Linked DNA regions of Homo sapiens: regions 1 and 2 are each linked to region 3. Evidence: fine-mapped expression QTL. A gene starts in region 3. Each other region holds a variant in brackets. All regions are shown on one strand. Distances are between the middles of the regions.

Evidence for each region.
Region 1: its variant is fine-mapped to the expression of AKAP11 in whole blood (INTERVAL, PIP 0.96).
Region 2: its variant is fine-mapped to the expression of AKAP11 in T cells (TOPMed, PIP above 0.99).

The regions. Positions count from the first base shown.
Region 1 is chr13:42,457,024-42,459,790 of GRCh38, forward strand. The region is part of intron 3 of LINC02341 (long intergenic non-protein coding RNA 2341); the gene reads left to right. Among named protein-coding and RNA genes, the nearest start is that of LINC02341, 34 kb to the left of the region's middle. The variant G/A (reference allele first, on the strand shown) is at 1,654.
Region 2 is chr13:42,303,271-42,306,028 of GRCh38, forward strand. AKAP11 (A-kinase anchoring protein 11) reads left to right here. Exons shown (of 13, transcript NM_016248.4): 8 at 1-593. Among named protein-coding and RNA genes, the nearest start is that of AKAP11, 32 kb to the left of the region's middle. The variant C/T (reference allele first, on the strand shown) is at 986.
Region 3 is chr13:42,270,893-42,273,659 of GRCh38, forward strand. AKAP11 (A-kinase anchoring protein 11) reads left to right here and starts at 1,260. Exons shown (of 13, transcript NM_016248.4): 1 at 1,260-1,336. RefSeq lists an enhancer at 450-629 and a silencer at 1,170-1,519.

The sequences.
Region 1 (2,767 bases), 190 kb after region 3:
TGTGCTACACACTGCCTATTGAGCAAATACCCTGCTCTTCCACGGCTGGCAGCTTAGTAATCCAGAAAGATAAGGGGGCATAGAAAAACATGGAGACAGTGCGGTCTTCTCAGAGGAAGTAATGTCTGATGGGTGGCAGGATGGATTAGTATTAATCAGATGGGTTAAGGATGGGCTAGTGTGCATCAGAAAGGGGTAGAGAAGGGCATTCCAAACAAAGGAACTAGCCTGTGCAAAGGCCCCCACCTCATATGAAAGTGAGGTTTATTAAGGCAGTGCAAAGAAAGCACTGAACATAGTTCCTGGCACATGGTAATAGTTGATAATGTTTACAATGATGACAATAATAACGATGATTGTGGTGGTGACCAACTTTGTGATAGAGGAACATATCCTTCTTAAATTATTGCCATTATGGTTTTTGATTTCTTTTGTTTTATTTTGTTTTTTAGTGACAAGGTCTTGCACTGTTGCCCAGGCTCGAGTACAATGAAGTAATCAAAGCTCACTGCAGCCTCGACCTCCTGGGCTCAAGCGATTCTCCCACGTAGGCCTCCCAGGCAGCTAGTATTATAGGCCTCAGCCACAATGCCTGGCTAATAATTTTTTTAAAAAAATTTGGTAGAGATGGAGTCTTGCTTTGTTGTCCAGGTTGGTCTCAAACACCTAGGCTCAAGTGATGCTTCTGCTTTGGCCTCTCAAAGTTCTGAGATTACAGGCATGAGACACCATGCCCATAATCACCACAGCTGATTAACTGAGATTTATTTTTCCCAGCTCCCATCTCACCCTTTAATGAGGGCATTTTTTAAGGTACATTTCCCTAAGGATAGGCAAGAAAGGGAAAAAGAAGGAGAACTTGAAGCCTAAATCATGGATATGTGACTAATCTTGCTCTTATTTATAGATTTGTTTAAATGCAGTGTTATAGGGCTAGTTGGTTTAATCTTTACAAATGGAAAAAAATATAGAGATAATGTGTTGTGTTCATTATGGTATAGGTGATCAGTTTCTCCAGAGAAACACCTAACTAGAACAATTAGATGAGACATTTACCTAATGATTCGAGTTTCTCAGTAGTAGCAGAACAAAAAAAAAAATTTTTTTTCCAAAGTAAACAACATCTTCCAGACCACACCTTTTTCAGACCACTTCTAAGAGATGAATGTTAATGGCAGTAGGGATTTTCGAACTGTCTTGCAGAACGTGTGGAAATCATGGTCCATGTAGTTTCCTTGTTCATCTTCGTATTTACCAGGCAATTCAAATACATAGATACTTCCTACAAAAACTTCTGAAATGCTATGGTAACGTATGCCATGAAATACAATTTGCATGGATGATTAAGTTCCTATTTACAGCCTTCACCTCTTTTTACAGCTGCTGTACAAATAACAAAGTTCAAAGAATGGAAAATCTAACAGTTATAAACACTGAGTTCCCACACCCAAAAGATTTTCATAAAAGCCAAATAGAAACATACAGAAAGGTGCGGTTGCTCACTCTCATTTTCTTTTAAGTTGAGTGATTATTTCCTATTAGACTTCACCTGGTTTGTTTATTTAATGATTCTTTCCAGTAGGCTGTTATTACCTGAAGGAGCATAAAATAGAAACTACAAGCATGAGTTAGAGAAAACTGCAATCTTCCTAC[G/A]AGAGCATGGGAAATAATTAATACTCTAGGAACATTTTTCCACCCAAATCCTGAAATTATGCTCAGAACTGTGGTTCATACGCGTAGGTGCACTGTTCCCCTTTAGGAGAGGAGCCATAGCTTTTTTGGGGGTCTTCAATAAAGTCCATAGCTTCAAAGAATTGTTAAAACACATTTTTCAACAGTGTTTTCCTTTTGCTATACTTTCACTCAGTAACATTTCCACACCTGGAAAGATACTTTAAAAAGCAAACACCTTTGTTTAAGTGCTCATAAATTAAGCCTGAGCAACATAATGTACAATAAGTATAAAAATAATATGGACGTTAAACAGTGTGGCAAAGTGGTCACCAGTCCAATCATCAGAAAATATCGAGAGGGATCCCAGATGAATTGGAATATATGACCCTATTTATTTATTTCAGTGGCTGTTTTAAAAGTTTGAAAACCTCAGGGTGTGAGTAGATTATTGTGTGATGTCCTTCGGACAAAATTCTTTTAAGTTGACCTGCAGGACAGGAATTTAAGTGCTGTAGGAAAATCACCACATTTGCTGATGGCATCTTTTTTGCAATTGTCATGCTCTGTGAATTTTTGGAGTCATAGTTTCATTTCCCCGCACTTGGTCCTTCTATGCCTTGCTCATTTTTTCCAATGATCCTCATCCTTCAATGGTTATAATCCTAAATATCCTCAAAGGTGGGATGCTACAGATGATAACTGAGTTCATGTTTACCTATAACCAATAATTTATACTGGAAGTTAAACTAGCAGTTCTGGAACAACATGAAATGCTGGGGCGTGGGATGAGCAGTTTGGATGAAGTGATACTATTCACTCTTCAGCAGGGACATAATAAATACCTGAATTCTTTTCCTATAAAAGTAAAAGATTCCACTGAGCTTGCATTACTTATGTGATGTCCTTTTTTAAGATACCTTTTCCGGCACATTATCATTAATGATGTATGTTTATAAAATAATTTTTAAAAGGTTGGTTTTTAAAAGAAGAAGGAAGTGGAGCAGGAGAAATAGAAGCAGCAGCAGTAGTTGAGGTGAATCAGAGACAGAGGAGGAAGAGGAGAAGTAGATTGGGAAGAGAAGTGAATGTCCAG
Region 2 (2,758 bases), 32 kb after region 3:
AAGTCTCTTCAGCCTTCCTCACAAAATCACAGGTTTTACCACAGCACTGGCAGTTTAAATGGATATGGTTGTGGAGACAATGTTGTTCAAGCTGTAGAACAGTATGCCAAAAAAGTAGTGGATGACACTCTAGAGCTAACTCTAGGATCTACAGTGTTCCGAGTGTCTGAGACCACAAAATCAGCAGACAGGGTCACTTATGCAGAAAAGTTGTCACCTCTTACAGGTCAAGCTTGCAGATACTGTGACCTTAAAGAACTCCACAATTGCACTGGAAATTCATCTCAGCACTTTTTCAGACAGGGTTCTCTCGCCAGTAGTAAGCCAGCTTCTAATCCAAAATTTAGCAGCCGCTATCAGAAATCTAGGATTTTTCATCTCAGTGTCCCTCAGATTCATGTTAATCTTGATAAGAAGGCAGTGCTTGCTGAGAAGATAGTTGCTGAAGCCATTGAAAAAGCTGAGCGAGAGCTGAGCAGTACCAGCCTGGCAGCCGACAGTGGGATCGGACAGGAGGGTGCCAGCTTTGCTGAAAGCCTTGCCACAGAAACCATGACAGCAGCTGTCACAAATGTTGGGCATGCTGTTAGCAGGTAAGTTTCACGTTTCTTTTGGTTGTTAATGATAAATTAAAAAGATAAATGTGATCCTATATGTCTTAGGTCCTGTTCATAAAGGAATGATTATTTTTAACCCTACATAAACAAAAGTTTTCCCTGTTGCATTTATGTATTGTTTCATATCCTACACATGACTTTAATATATTTTGGTCTCCTGATCCCTTTTGAGGGAAGGTGTTATCCATTTACAGAGCTGGAAAATGAGGGTTGGAGAAAATAATCACCTTATCCAAGTTCATAGAGCTATGAAATAGGTAAAGTTGAATTAAATAAATAGCTAGAGAATTTTATATAGTAGTCCCCCCTTATTCTCAATTTTGCTTTCCTCAATCTGAAAATGTTAAATGGAAAATTCCAGAAATAAG[C/T]GATTCGTAAGTTTTAAGTTGCATGTTCTGAGTAGCATGATGAAGTCTCACACCATCTCACTCAGGATGTGAATTACCCCTTTATCCAGTTTATCCATACTACATGTGCTGTTCACCTGTTAGTCACTTAGAAGGTATCTCAGTTATCAGGTCCACAAACCTGGTATGTACAGGGCTTGATGCTATCTGCAGTTTCAGACATCCACTGGGTGTCTTAGATCATATCCCCCATGGATAAGGGGGGACTATTCTATAGTAAATGTAGAATATTACTATATTAATTTACTATTCTGAGATTAAATTTTTGTACACCTTTCTTCATTCACAAGGGTAAGTTTTCTTATAAAGACCATGGTTAAACTACTCTGAAGAAGAAAGTGAAAATTCTTTACATACTTACACCATTTCTCTTGATTGGTTCACAATCTAAGAGGACAGTTCTTTCTGGTAGTCCTACAGTGTCCTGTTTTTCAGTAGCTATCTCTTGTGCTCAGTGATTCTTTTTTTTTTTTTGAGATGGAGTCTCGCACTGTTGCCCAGGCTGGAGTGCAGTGGCACAATCTCAGCTCACTGCAACCTTTGCCTCCCGGGTTCAAGCGATTCCTGTGCCTCAGCCTCCCTAGTAGCTGGGATTACAGGCACCCACCACCACGCCCAGCTAATTTTTGTATTTTTAGTAGAGACAGGGTTTCACCAAGTTGGCCAGGCTGGTCTTGAACTCCTGACCTTAGGTGATCTGCCCACCTCAGCTTCCCAAAGTGCTGGGATCACAGGCGTGAGCCACCGCAACCAGCCATGCTCAGTGATTCTTTAATAACAACTTAGTTACAGTTTTTCAGTTTAAACCTTCTTTGTCCCTGAGAAGATATCAGGACCAACTTGTGTTATTAGTTGATAGGATGATATTTGTAAGTCCTGCTTGAAAGAGAAAATGCTTTAAGTTGAGGTGGAATTTAATTGAGTCACATGATATTCCAGATTTTTGAGTAGCTTCTGTTAAAGCCATGACATGGTCTGCCTCTTTTCTTATCCATCTTAAAATAGGGAGATATAGCTTGGCCAGGATTCTTGAATCCAATTGCTCCATAGCGTCTACTTGAGATGAGAGATGATGTAGGTTTCTGGTGAACTAGGAGAGGTCTCTATTTGCCCTAATCAGGCAGCCTTCTTTCTCCTAGACCAGGGGTTGGCAAACTACAGTCTGTGGGCCAATGTGGCCTACTGGTTGTTTTTGTATGGACTGCAAGCTAAGAACAGATTTCATGTTTTTTTTTAATGGTTGAAAAAAATCAAATGATATTTTGTGATGTGGAAATTATATGAAATTCAAATTTCAGTATTTATAAATAAAGTTTTATTGGGACACCACCATGCTCATTCAATTACACATTTCTGTGGCTGCCTTTGTGCTATAATGGCAGAGTTGAGTAGTTGGGACAGAGGCTGTATGACCAGCAGTGCCTATGTACTTCCTGTTTGGCCTGTATTAGTTCATTTTCACACTGCTATAAAGATACCACCTGAGACTGAGTAATTTATAAACAAAGGAGGTTTAATTGACTCACAGTTCTGCATGGCTGGGAAAGCCTCAGGAGACTTACAGTCATGGCACAAGGCAAAGGGGAAGCAAGTGTTTTCTTCACAAGGCAGCAGGAGAGAGAGAGAAGGGGGAGCTGCCAGACACTTTTAAAACCATCAGCTCTCATGAGAACTCCCTCACTGTCATGAGAACAGCATGGAGGAAGCCGCCCTCATGATCCAATCACCTCCCAC
Region 3 (2,767 bases):
CTAAAATATCTCCTCCTTAAAAGGGCATCCCCTTTACTAGCCACTCAGTCACCATCACCATCACGTCACTTATTGTAACTTCTTTGCATACAGCTTAAAACCAACAGATTTTTTTTCTTTTCACCCTCAGATAAGTTCCCTAGAATCTACACTACTTGTCTTCATCATTGTTCAATCAACAGCCTAGAGTAGTGTTTGTTGAATGAAGAAATGAACAAACGAATGCACCCTTTCTTCCGTGACCCTCTCCTCTGAACAGGGCAAAACTTAACTCATAACGAGGATACACTCAAAAATGTCTTTCTTATTGCCAGGTGTTTCCACTCTTGAGGAACAGATGCCCTTTAGGAGACAGGGCAATTTGACTGGACTGGCCCTTCCGATTTTAGGTGAAAATAATCACCATAACAGCTTTTCATCTCTGGCTAGGCTTCCCAGTGACCAAAGCTTTACTTTCCGATTTCCATACCACGTAAAGACATCAGGGTGAGCACTAGGGCCCTGAGAACCCTGGAAGCTACTTCTTGGCTGGGATAGGGCTGGTTGCCCGGTGCGCTGTGAGTGGTCCTCCCCGGAGATGCTGGGAGAAGGGGCGGAGCCATCAGAAAGGATGAGCCTTCCTTGGGCCTTCGGATCTGGTGGGGCTGCCACTTTGGGAAGGGCCCCGGGCTTCGGAAGAAAGCAAAACTAGCCTTGTGGCGAAGAAGGAGCCCAGCTGGCCCCAGGCTGTTAAGACTAAGGGGTCGAGGGAAAAGAGGCAGAGCCTGAAACCAAATCTGCGGAGCAAGCCAAGGCCTGGGGACTTGCCAGAGGGAAGGGTTAAGCCGTTTCCAAGGCAACGGACCAGGAAGCGCGCAAGACGTCCGCCGCAGGTTCGTAGGTCGCCCTCGAATTTAAAGCTCCCAAGGCTGAGTGGGTCCCGGCCAATGGAGAGGCCCCCTTTAAGTCATGTGACCAGCGGGGCTGCCCCGCGGGCTGCTCCGCGGGCTGCACTGGAGCACGTGGGAAGGCTTTTTTTCCTGTTCCTTCTTTCCCTTTTTAAACGCCCACCCACTTTTGCGCGGGCTCGGCCGCGGAATTTTTCTCGCGAGAGGCGCGCTGCCCTCTCGCGAGAGAGAGTGGGAGGCGTGGAGAGTAGGCGGTGTTGCGGGCCGGAGCTGCGGCGGCGGCGGCGGCGGCGGAAGCCGAGGGGTGGGCAGGGCGGGGGCGGGCCGCGGGGCTGGGAGGGGGAGGGCTGGGGGTCAGCGCGGGAGGGGGCCAGCTTGCTTGCCCGGCTCGCTCACGGGTCGTTGAGGCCGGTGACATGTCTGTGAGCTGCGGAGGCTGCGGCCCCCAGGTGAGCCGGGCGCCGACGTGCTCGCCGCGGAGGCTGCGTTTAGATGGGGTGGCGGCGGGTGTGCGGCCGGCATGGATGGAGCGGCCCGGCTCCGGCGCTCCAGCCCCTCCGCCTGCCGCTGGTCCCCCTTCTGGCTTCGGGGCCGCCCGAGAGCTGCGCCTTCGCATGGCGGAGGGAGGAGGGCGGGAGGAGCGCGGCCGAAGGAGGAAACTCACCGCACCGGGCCCAGAGTAGAGGGAGGTGCTGGGTCTCGAGACGCGTCTTCCTGGGGTCCCAAGTGTGGCGGTGGAGCTGCCGCCCCTTTTAATGACAGGCTGTTTCCATCCCCGGGGTGGTCTTCAGAGACGGCCCCCCGGGTGCGTGGTGCGCGTGCTTAGTGTGTGTTCGTGGTGTGCGCACAGGAACATTTGCAGCGGTTGGGAGGACGTTGCACTTTGTTCCCGAACAGCATCCTTCACTGTCAGACCCCCGGAGCCTTGGAAGCAGGCGCTGCTCAGATCTTGTAAACGGAAGGCGTCAAGGGGCTCCTCAGAGTATTGATATTTGGATTTGCTGTCAAATACTCTCCTAGGCTGTTAATGGCTTAAGGCTGGCCATAAAGTACCCCGAATGGATTGAGTATACTGCTGTTAATCCAGGCATCTAAGCTGCTTTATAAAAAATATGTAGATGTAACCGAAGTATTAAAAAGTGACAATGACAGTAAAAGCTAACATTTTTTCTCTTCCCCATATTACCAGCTTTCATTTTTTTTCTCTGCTTTGTCTGTCTTCTAAAACCATATAAAGTTGGATGTGGTTTAGCTTTAGATGTTAAGGAGTTTCATGGTGAGAAAGACTGCTGAGATACATACCTAATAGCTTTAGTACAAACTGGAGTTAATTCCTGTTCTCTTTTCAGCTTTTCAATCGCTTGCAAAATGCTCGTTTTGCTTAGCTGCTTCCCACTGTTTTAGAAATGTCATGTCGATTGTTATTTTGTTATGTCTGAAAATACTCAAAATATGGAGTACTAAGAAAAAATGGGGTATCAGTAATGCACAGATATATTTTTTTTAATGTCATCATTTTAGGATGGCAGCCCAGTGCCTGGCATGATTGGTGTCAGTTAAAATAGTGCAATTGAATGATTTTTTTTTTTTTTGAAAAACACATTTACTTTTTCAAACGGTACCCTGATTATTCATTTTTTCTTGTCGTTGTTCCTCCTGACAAAACTGACCCAGGGGTGGACAGTGAATGTCACTATTGTAGCTGTAACAGTAATTTATGAAAGGTCAAAGAATGTAAGGAAATCAGGGAAGAAGTGGGTTCCCAAGCTGAGCTAGAGACTAATGTATGTACCCACATAACTGCAGTATCGACAATATTGATAAGGGCCTAGCAGTGGACTCCTAGGCCAGTGATATTTTGCAGTTGTTGAGGATATGGG